Linked DNA regions of Homo sapiens: region 1 is linked to region 2. Evidence: fine-mapped expression QTL. A gene starts in region 2. The other region holds a variant in brackets. All regions are shown on one strand. Distances are from middle to middle.

Region 1 (5,373 bases), 46 kb after region 2:
CAGAGGGCACATCAGCATCTAGAATAGAGAGCTCTGGGAGGATATGAAGTGTGGGCTTCTGCGGGCCAGAGCCAGGGGGTGTTGGGGATGGTTTCTCAGGGAAGGTCGGTGTTGGAACTGCATCTTGAATAATTGAGTTAAAAGTGTCCTAGGCAGGGGGAGGTAGGGAATGCAGAAGGGAGTAGAAAGGCAGCTTACCTCCCTGAGGACCACATGTGTAAAGGCACAAAGCGGAGAGAACTCATCACTTGTTCAAGGTACTGAGGGAGGAGGTTAGTGTTCATTCATCTATCTCTGTGCCAGACCCCTTTTTCGATGCGGAGATTACATTGGTGAAGAAGAGAGACAAAGAATTTATACTCTTGGGGCTTACATTGTAATAAAAAATATTCAAGGTAGTTTAGAGAAGTGATTCTTATAAAGAACAACCAGGTGATGTGCCTGTGAGTTCACTAGGTGAGGTGGGGTGGTATAGGGAAGTCTCCTTTGAGGGGAACTGAGGAGAACCCTGAAGGATAAGTCGTAGCTAGTAGGGAGGGCTAGGAGAAGAGCATCCTGGGCAACTGGGACAGCTGTGGGCTCTTCAGAAGCTGGCAGTAAAACTCACATAGCCTTTACAAAGCCCATTTCCTTATCTTCAAAATGTGCCTAATGTGTACATTTGTACATAGTACAACCAATGTACAAAAATATAACTACCATGAAGGATTACTACAGTAATTAACACAGCTAAAGAAGATGAGCACAGTTCCCTCCCTCCCCTCATGAATAAGAATTTGAGAAATTCTGGTTATTTTATTACTACGTGGTGTAGCGAGCCAGTTAAGGATTTAAATCTGAAAGTGTAGCACAGTCGTGCTTATGTTGAGGAAGATCCTGATGTGACAGTAGGGTGGAGAATGGATTGGATGGAAGCAGAACAAGTGTCTCTAATATGCTGTTTTTTATTTTCAGGTTTTGGGGAAGGATCACCCCGATGTTGCCAAGCAGTTAAATAACTTGGCCTTACTGTGCCAGAACCAGGGCAAGTATGAAGAAGTAGAATATTATTATCAAAGAGCCCTCGAGATCTACCAGACAAAACTGGGACCTGATGACCCCAACGTGGCTAAGACGAAAAATAACCTGGTGTGTTGACTGCACAGCACTAGGGAGGGGGCCAGGAGTGCTTTCGTCCCAAGTCCAAACACTTTCTCATTTAACTGGAGATTAAAATGTATGCTTTATTTACATCTGAAAGATATGAAATATTTTATTTTATTTTATTTTAAGGCATCCTGCTATTTGAAACAAGGAAAGTTCAAGCAAGCAGAAACACTGTACAAAGAGATTCTCACTCGTGCACATGAAAGGGAGTTTGGTTCTGTAGATGGTAAGAAATATACTCCCGTTTCAAGTGAATTTAATTGTATAATGACTTGACTAATAGTAATATACTAATAGTATTAGTTACTGTTTATTAAGCACTTAACTTTGTACATCACTAAGCTAAATAGTTTAAATGTGTGATTTCACTTCACTTTCACAGCAGTCTTGTGCAGCGGGTCAAACATTACCCCATTTTAAAAGCAAGGATACCACAGGCCGGGCGTGGTGGCTCACGCCTGTAATTCCAGCACTTTGGGAGGCCGAGGTGGGTGGATCACGAGGTCAGGCGATCGAGACCATCCTGGCTAACACAGTGAAACCCCGTCTCTACTAAAAATACAAAAACTTAGCCGGGTGTGATGGCGGCCGCCTGTAGTCCCAGCTACTCGGGAGGCTAAGGCAGGAGAATGGCGTGAACCCGGGAGGCGGATCTTGCAGTGAGCCGAGATCGTGCCACTGCACTCCAGCCTGGGCAACAGAGTGAGACTCTGTCTCAAAAAAAAAAAAAGACACCACAGACTAAGTGACTTGTGTGAGGCCCCGTAGCTGAGAAGCAGTTAGACTGGGATTACAGTGCCCAGAGCCCATAACATGTCCTCATTGCAGAGACCTATACAGTTCACGCAGAAATGGAGACAGGAGCATCACCCAAATCCATCTTCATGTCCTCATTGCAGAGACCTACCCAATTCATGCAGAAATGGAAACAGGAGAATCACCCAAATTCATCTTTTCACATTTTTAATGTCTTTCCTTCCTTCTGTGCCTTTGGTTTACAGATTTCAAACCATACCGTCCATATCATCATGTATACTGCTTATTTTCTTTACATTTTTAGTGTG[A/G]GTACCTTTCAGTCATAAAAATATTTTCATAAACATTACTTTTAAGGTGGCTTTTTCCTCCATAGCATGGGTCTGTTGGTTGTCTAGAAACTTGCGTGAGTGTTCCGAGAAGATGACTTAAAACGAATATTGATTCGTATGCTTGTTTTCTTTTTTTTTTTTGAGGTGGAATTTCGTTCTTGTTGCCCAGGCTGGAGTGCAATGATGTGATCTTGGCTCACTGCAACCTCTGCCTCCTGGATTCAAGTGATTCTCCTACCTCAGCCTCCCGAGTAGCTGGGATTACAGGCACACACCACCACGCCCGGCTAATTTTTGTATTTGTAGTAGAGACAGATTTTCACCATGTTGGCCAGACTGGTCTTGAACTCCTGACCTCAGGTGATCCTCCTGCCTAAGTCCCCCAAAGTGCTGGGATTACAGGTGTGAGCCACTGCACCCGGCCTTGATTTGTATCTTTTCTACTTTTGCTAGCAACATCTTGCTACTTTTTCTTAGACTATTGTTTAATGTTTTTGTTTAGTGCTCACATTCTGAATACTCCCTTGTGCTACTTGAGCAGCTGGCATTTTAGAAATTACATTCCAGGGCCCTAGCATTTGCTGGGGTGTCTTGACAGTTGCTCACCTGTCTCAGGACATTGATTCTGTACCCTGTGTCTTACCTGTTGCTTGGTGTCCAGCTCTGTCGTCCATAGACTTTTTCCTCCAGTGTGAACCTAATCTGTCCATGCTGTAAGAAGTAGTATCTAACAAGGATCATATAAAAAAGAAAACAGGCTGGGCGCGGTGGCTCACGCCTGTAATCCTAACACTGGGAGGCTGAGGCAGGTGGATCACTTGAAGTCAGGAGTGACCAGCCTGGCCAACATGACGAAACCCCATCTCTACTAAAAATACAAAAAAATTAGCTGGGTGTGGTGGCGGGTGCCTATAATCCCAGCTACTTGAGAGGCTGAGGCAGGAGAGTCACTTGAACCCAGGAGCTGGAGGTTGCAGCGAGGCGGGATCACACCACTGCACTCCAGCCTGGGCAACAGAGTGAGACTCCATCTCAAAAAAATAAAAAACCACAGAGGCTTCATGATTTCTAGTTTACTTAGCAGGCTCTGTTATCCTTCATTTATAGTACAGGTTAAATATCCCATTATTCAAAGTGCTCCAAAGTTTGAAACTTTTCGAGTGCCGACTTGACACTCAAAGGAAATTCCCCTTAGAGCAGTTCAGATTTTGGAGTTTTGGATTAAGGATGCTCAACCTGTATGCTGTGTTTTCTTCCCTAGATGAAAATAAACCCATCTGGATGCATGCTGAAGAAAGAGAAGAATGCAAAGTAAGAATTTATTATTTTGAGATTTTCTAAATTGTATATACTGCATTCAAGATAATTATTCATTTGAAATTATTTCTTATAATTTAGGGAAAGCAAAAGGATGGGACATCTTTTGGAGAGTATGGCGGCTGGTACAAAGCCTGCAAAGTTGATAGGTATGTCTGGAATTGCGTTTGGCTGGAAAAACCAAAAAGCAGGGGGAAGGTAATTGTGTTCTACAGGGCAGCTTATAAATGACCAATGTGTAGTGTTCCTTAAGTGCACAGTCCCATGTTTTTCCCGAATTCCAATTAAAAAAACCCCACTAACCTTGTAAATGAGATCACTTACATGTATAAAACCCACTATCATGTTAGGTTGGTGCAAAGGTAATTGCGATTTTGCCATTACTTTTACTTTTAATGGCAGAAACCATACAGTAAATTCATGAGAAGCATGCCAGCAGGCCTGGGAAAGCCAGCCCCTCACACACAGCGCTGGAGACACAGATCCACACACACTCCTTTTCCTCACAGCCCATGGGGCCTTGTCCTCTGCAGAGGGAAGTGTAGGCCCCTCCGTGGCCGGCCCGAGAGCCTTGCCTCTTGAGCCCGAGCCTGTGCAGACTGCCCTCTGTGATGGCTGCTGTCCCTGGGTCCAGGTGGCTCACCTGTTTGGCTGTCTTTCCACTCTATTTTTTTTTTTGAGATGGAGTTTCGCTCTTGTCTCCCAGGCTGGAGTGCAATGGCGTGATCATGGCTCACTGCAACCTCCACCTCCCAGGTTCAAGTGATTCTCCTGCCTCAGCCTCCCGAATAGCTGAGACTACAGTCTGTCGCCATGCCTGGCTATTTTTTGTATTTTTAGTAGAGACAGAGTTTCACCGTGTTGGCCAGGCTGGTTTTGAACTCCTGACCTCAGGTGATCCACCCGCCTCGGCCTCCCAAAGTGCTGGGATTACAGGTGTGAGCCACTGTGTCTTTCCACTCTTAACTTTCCTCATCCTTTAAGACTCAGCCTACCATTCATCTATTTTCAGAAAACTCTCTGAACTCTCTCTAGGGCTCCCATAGCACTTACCATAGATTACTTGTTTCAGAGACATAGAAAATAGCTTCTTTATTTCTGTACCCAAAATGCCTATTGTAAGTAAGTGAACAGAACTCTCTCGAAGTACTTATCTATGCTAAAATGAATCTAGGTTTATTTATAATTTTTTTAGTAAGTCTGCTCTATCAAGAATGCAGAAACATCAAGCTCAATGATACAGTTTGAAAAATAAGAAAGAAAGAAAGAACACAGAAACACAGCCGTCCTCTCGGCCATCTGCTTATTGCTTCCCTGGTACATGAAGCATTTATCCTCTGCCCTCACACCCCACTGATAAGGAGGTTCTGCTTTGCTGTCTTCTCCCGGGTACTTGAGGGGAGACGGCAGCACGTGAGCAGCAACATTCAGAGCACTGTTCGTCGTTACTGTCAGCGCAGACCAAGTCGTCTCCAGGGAAAGCATGCTGATACCACACAGACCTGGCCCAGATGTTTCTGTTGACAGAGTGGCCAGTGGTCTGTGAGAGCCGCCTCAGCCTGGATGGAGTGTGGTGTTAGCCTGGCCTGCAGGGGCTGTCTACAGGACGGGCCAGGGTCATGGGAGGTAGAGCTACCTGAGAGGGAAGAACGCTTTACAATTTTACAGTTTCAGAAAAGTACAAGAGAAAGTTAAAATATATTCAAGCCAAAACAGAAGTCTGTTAGTTCTTTAGATTATGTGCTGTTGATAGTGGTTGTTCAGAGCTTATATGTCATAGTTCTGTATGTCATGTGCTTTCTTACAGTCCAACTGTTACAACCAC
Region 2 (5,373 bases):
CAGCCCAGCCCTCCTCTCATGCTTGCTTGAGGGTTGCCCTTGCAGCTGCGTCAGGTGCTGAGCAGGCTGTGGGGAAGAGGACACCAGCCCCTCCTGTTCTCTGCTTACAGGCTGAGGAGAAGGCAGCTGTGTAAGCTGACCACATACTACACATTGGGGAAGGGACAGGTGGGTGGTCAGAGGAGGCCTTGACCCAGGCAGGTGCTGTCAGAAGCGGCTTCCCCCAGGAAGTGACGATCATTTGAATCCTGGAGCACTGGGGGGAATGGGGGAGGGAGAACATTCTAGGCACAGTGAATACTATGTACAGGGGCATGGCTATGTGAGAGACCAGGGTGAACTCAGGAACAGATAAGGGTGTTCAGAGCACAGGAGACCAGGAGGTTGGCAGCACCAGGCCCTGGGGGCCTTGTTGACCAACCCAAGGAATTTGAAGTTGCTGCAGACAGTGATGCGTGGCAGCACTGGTGGATGAATTGGCCTTTTCTCCTTTCCCCCAACACTCCAGGGTCATTCCTGCCTGAGGACTCCTGCCCTCAGAGCTCTCCTGGGGCTTTTATTTATTTTGTTTTGAGACAGAATGTGGCTCTGTTGCCCAGGCTTGAGTGCAGTGGTGTGATCTTGGCTCACTGCAACCTCTGCCTCCCAGGTTCAAGCGATTCTCCTGCCTCAGCCTCCCGAGTAGCTGGGACTACAGACGTGCGCCACCACGCCTGGCTAATTTGTTGTATTTTAGCAGAGATGTGGTTTCACTGTGTTGCCCAGGTTGGTCTTGAACTCCTGAAGGCAATCCACCTGCCTCGGCCTCCTGAAGTGTTGGGATTACAGGCGTGAGCCACCTCGCCGGCCTCTCCTGGGGCTTTGAACGCCTGCCTCCCTCCTCTCATTTGGGTCTCAGGTCACCCGCCTGCCTCTGAGTTCACCCCTGACCACCTAGACTCTGCCTGTTCCATCATCTTTGTTCCATCTCTGCCTGTTCCATCATCTCGGCAAGATCCGGTATTTCCTTATGTGTTTATGGCCTACTTCTCCTCACTGGAATGTAAACTCTTAGAAAGCAGAGATCTTATCTATCTTGTTCACCTATGCATCCTTGGCTGTTATGAGGATCATGGGAGAGCAACAAATATTTATTGAGGAAATAAAAGAACAAGGTAATAAAGCCAGAACAAAGTGGTGGCAGTGGAGATGGATTCAAGAAATACTGAGAGGCCGGGCATGGTGGCTCACACCTGTAATCTCAGCACTTTGGGAGGCCAGCTGGGAGGATCACTTGTGGCCAGGAGTTCGAGATCAGTCTGGGCAACATAGCAAGATCTCCTCTCTGCAAAAAATTTAAAAAACATTAGCTGGGAGTGGTGGTGCACACCTGTAGTCCCTAGCTACTTGGGAGGCTGAGGCAAGAGGATCTCTTGAGCCCAGGAGTTCGAGGTTACGGTGAGCTGATTGCCACTGCCCTCCAGTCAGGGTGACAAAGATACCCTAACTCAAAGAAATATTGAGGAAGTAGAATCTTTTCCACCTGTTGTAGTAGGGCGTAAGGGAGCGGTGCAGGCATCCCAGGTTTCTGGCTAGGGTTGTGGGTGAGCAGAGGGGACAGTTACTGGGCGCAGCGGCACAGAAAGAATGAGCAGTCGATGCTTGGCGGTGCCCAGCCCAGTGGCTGAACTTAGTGACATCCAAGCTGCAGTCTGGCTGAAATCACTAACCTGAAAGTGGTATGGAGAAAGTTTGTTTGACCCTGACTCAGTGCCTCTCCCCGGGCCAACCCTACCGTGTTACCTAGGAGCTCCCCCTTTGTCTTTATAAATGAGATAAAAGTAACCAGACCTCCCTGGAAAAACCGAGGAGCACTTGCTTCTCTGGTGACTGCGGGGCCTAACTGCAGGGTTCACAAAGGGCTGCTGGTGCTGGGTGATAACATCGGAAAGGAACAGCAGTTCACAAGATGGGGCTGGGGGACTGGCCCAGGAACCCCTCCAGGTTAAATGATGCCTCCGGGCCCCGCACTTGGGACGTCTGCAGGCACTGGGAGGGTTTTTCCCAAGCCGCTGGCAGCAGCGAGCGGAGCCTCGCCCATTGAATCAGCATGCCCTCCCGGCTGGCTGCTGAGTCAGGCCTGCGGAGCCGGCGAAGCCGCAGGACTTGACCCAGGCGCGCTCCGCTGCCCTTCAGGCCGGGCTGGAGGTCGAGGCCCTGCAGCCAGGGAGATGCGCCGGTGGCTGCGTGGGGACAGAGGGGGGTTGTCTCCCACCCTCACAGTCTACACCCCGGCCCTTCCCCTTTGCCCGTCTGAGGCGCAGTTTGTGTCGAGGGGGAGCGCCTGGAAAGTTTCCTCGTACAGATACGAGGGTCCAAAAGCCCCGAGGAGAGGGAATAATGAGAAGGGGAGGGCGCAGGGTTAGAGGTCAGGGTCTCGACCAAAGGCTGTCGGTTTTCCTGGAGGAGGGAGAAAGGCCTGGCCGGGATCATCTGATTCCGGGGCCTCCCGAAGGCCTCCTAGCTGGGTTTTGGGGGGACCGAAACGAGCGCATGAAGCTCGCGGGCCTGGGAGTGGGGTGGGGCGGGAGCCCAGTGGTGGCGGCTGCGGCCGGGCCTGCACCGTCCCCGGCCGCATTCTGGTAGGGCCCACAGTCCGGCTGGAAGGGAAGCTGCCGAAGCGCTCGGTCATCGCGGCTGCGGAGTCGGAGAGGCCAGGGCCTGGCCGCCCACCCCGCGAGCCGCGCCCTGCCCCGAGCGCCCCACCCCCGTCCGCGTTACAACCGGGAGGCCCGCTGGGTCCTGCACCGTCACCCTCCTCCCTGTGACCGCCCACCTGATACCCAAACAACTTTCTCGCCCCTCCAGTCCCCAGCTCGCCGAGCGCTTGCGGGGAGCCACCCAGCCTCAGTTTCCCCAGCCCCGGGCGGGGCGAGGGGCGATGACGTCATGCCGGCGCGCGGCATTGTGGGGCGGGGCGAGGCGGGGCGCCGGGGGGAGCAACACTGAGACGCCATTTTCGGCGGCGGGAGCGGCGCAGGCGGCCGAGCGGGACTGGCTGGGTCGGCTGGGCTGCTGGTGCGAGGAGCCGCGGGGCTGTGCTCGGCGGCCAAGGGGACAGCGCGTGGGTGGCCGAGGATGCTGCGGGGCGGTAGCTCCGGCGCCCCTAGCTGGTGACTGCTGCGCCGTGCCTCACACAGCCGAGGCGGGCTCGGCGCACAGTCGCTGCTCCGCGCGCGCGCCCGGCGGCGCTCCAGGTGCTGACAGCGCGAGAGAGCGCGGCCCTCAGGAGCAAGGCGGTGAGTCCCCGGCGTGCGCCCCGGACCGCGGCCCCCTCCTCATCCTCCGCCCCGTCCCTGTCCCGCTCCTCTTCGGACCCGCCCCGGCCGTAACTCTGTCCCCATCCAGGCCTCCTTCCCGGTTTGGGTCCCGGCCCCTCTCCGTTCCCACCCCGGTACCCGCCCCAGTTCACCGCCCCGGCCGGTCCGCGACCCCTTCCAGGTTCAGGTCGGGTTCTTGTCCCCGGCCCTTTTGCCAGCCCCGGCTCCCGGCGCCGCGCGTCCTCCCCATCCGCGTCCCACTGCAGGTTCCGGTCCCCGGCCCTGCCCAGGGCCCCGCCCTGGCCCCGCATCCCCGGCTTGGCCCTGCTGCGGGCGGCGGCGGCCGTTCCCGGGGACAGCTGTGGACCCCGGGAACCCGCGACAGGGGAGGTGGCTGACCCCGGGATCGCGGCGGGCGGGGAGGCCGGAGGCCCGGCGGGGCTGGCTTTGTCCGATTCCTCCTCTTCCTTCCACCCCCGCCTCTCCCGGCACCGCCCTGAGCGGACGCGCCTGTCATTCTCGCGGGCGGCGGGGGGCCGGGTCCCTCCCGAGAGCTGGCTCCGCTTTGCCTCCTTGGCGACCCCTTATTTTCAGTAACCAGATGCGAAACGTTTCAGGCGACCCTGTTCACCTAGGCTGGCGTTGCTCCAACTAAACTTGAAGCAGCCTCCGTCCTGGAATGCTTTTTCCATGTAAAATTGGGTGTACCCTTTTCCTTAAGAAAATTAAAATAAAGCGTAAAAGTAGTGAAATTAATGCGTGATGGAGTGGATGGTTTTATAACTTAACATTTGTAGGTCATTTCTAGGTATATTTGTATTAGAATTGTTGCTGCCTGTTACTGTTTTATTATTTAAATGAATTAAGAATTTACATATTAAGCGTTTGAAAAGGAATACTTACAAAAATGATGTTTTTTAAAAATGTGAGAACAAAAAATTTGAGATATACTATTTCAGGTGTTCTGTAAAAGGGCAGTTAGAGCTTTGATTCTTTGCATTAGTTAAATCCCAAGGCCTTTTTTTTTGGTACGGCATGACTAAGCCATTGATCAGAATCAGCTCGGAATACATTGCACTAGTTTAGTGAAAGACACTTTAGAAAACTGGAAGAACCTCCTGAAGTTATATTACAGACATGGCCTTGCTTCTTTCAGGGATTGTCAGCAAGCCTGTTATGGTGAGAAATTTGACCTATTGCTCTGTTTCCTAAATATTTGTAGGAATACAATGATACTAAGTATGAAGTATATTTCAACTTGTATGGAATTCTGTGTGGGAGGGTAGGCACTCTAAAGAGCCAGTGTCTCTCCAAGTCATCAAAGAATGCAGCATCATGTTGCAGTTGAGCCTGGCAGCCCTGTCTGGCACTGAGTGCTGTGGAGGACCCAGGTGGTAACCTCTAACCCTACTGCAGCCTTGGCATTGTCTTAGAGAAAAGCATCCAGACATGCACAGGACTCTGGACAGCGTTTATCTCCAGCAAGGGGGGAGGGAATGACACTGGGGAGAGGCACACAGTATCTTCAGTATTTCATAGCAAATAACTGCAGTCGTTTAAACTTACACATTTTTTTTTTTTTTGAGATGGAGTCTCGCTCTGTCGCCCGGGCTGGAGTGTAGTGGCGCGATCTCGGCTCACTGCAAGCTCCGCCTCCCGGGTTCACGCCATTCTCCTGCCTCAACCTACTGAGTAGCTGGGACCACAGGCGCCCGCCACCACGCCCGGTTAATTTTTTGTATTTTTAGTAGAGATGGGGTTTCAACATGTTAGCCAGGTTGGTCTTGATCTCCTGACCTCGTGATCCGCCCACCTCGGCCTCCCAAAGTGCTGGGATTACAGGCGTGAGCCACCGCACCTGGCCCAAATTTATACATTTTTAAAATTTATACATTCTTAGGCATGTTTCTCAATGTTGGAAAAAAGTCAATGTGTAACTTTCTGTATAGGGCCATAAATTATCTTAAAACATACTTGTATAAAAAGAAACCTAGGATAGAAAAATCAAAAGTTGAGTGAAATGTATGATTAGTATCACCTGAAAACATTCTTTGTAGATAAGTGGAATGTTAGA

What was found. PIP is the estimated chance that this variant, and not a neighbour inherited with it, causes the effect.
Region 1: its variant is the best candidate, but not a certain one, in a credible set for the expression of KLC1 in whole blood (TOPMed, PIP 0.61).

The regions. Positions count from the first base shown.
Region 1 is chr14:103,672,060-103,677,432 of GRCh38, forward strand. KLC1 (kinesin light chain 1) reads left to right here. Exons shown (of 17, transcript NM_001394837.1): 8 at 955-1,128; 9 at 1,273-1,372; 10 at 3,493-3,542; 11 at 3,630-3,697; 12 at 5,356-5,373. Among named protein-coding and RNA genes, the nearest start is that of XRCC3, 41 kb to the right of the region's middle. RefSeq lists an enhancer at 1,761-2,260. The variant A/G (reference allele first, on the strand shown) is at 2,211.
Region 2 is chr14:103,626,217-103,631,589 of GRCh38, forward strand. It overlaps KLC1 (kinesin light chain 1), which reads left to right and starts at 2,995. Exons shown (of 17, transcript NM_001394837.1): 1 at 2,995-3,278. It overlaps LOC105370688 (a long non-coding RNA gene), which reads right to left and starts at 2,927. Exons shown (of 3, transcript XR_944248.2): 1 at 2,816-2,927; 2 at 1,523-1,709; 3 at 1,286-1,324. RefSeq lists an enhancer at 2,033-2,122 and silencers at 2,563-2,762, 2,853-3,212, 3,263-3,382, 3,473-3,522, 3,563-3,742.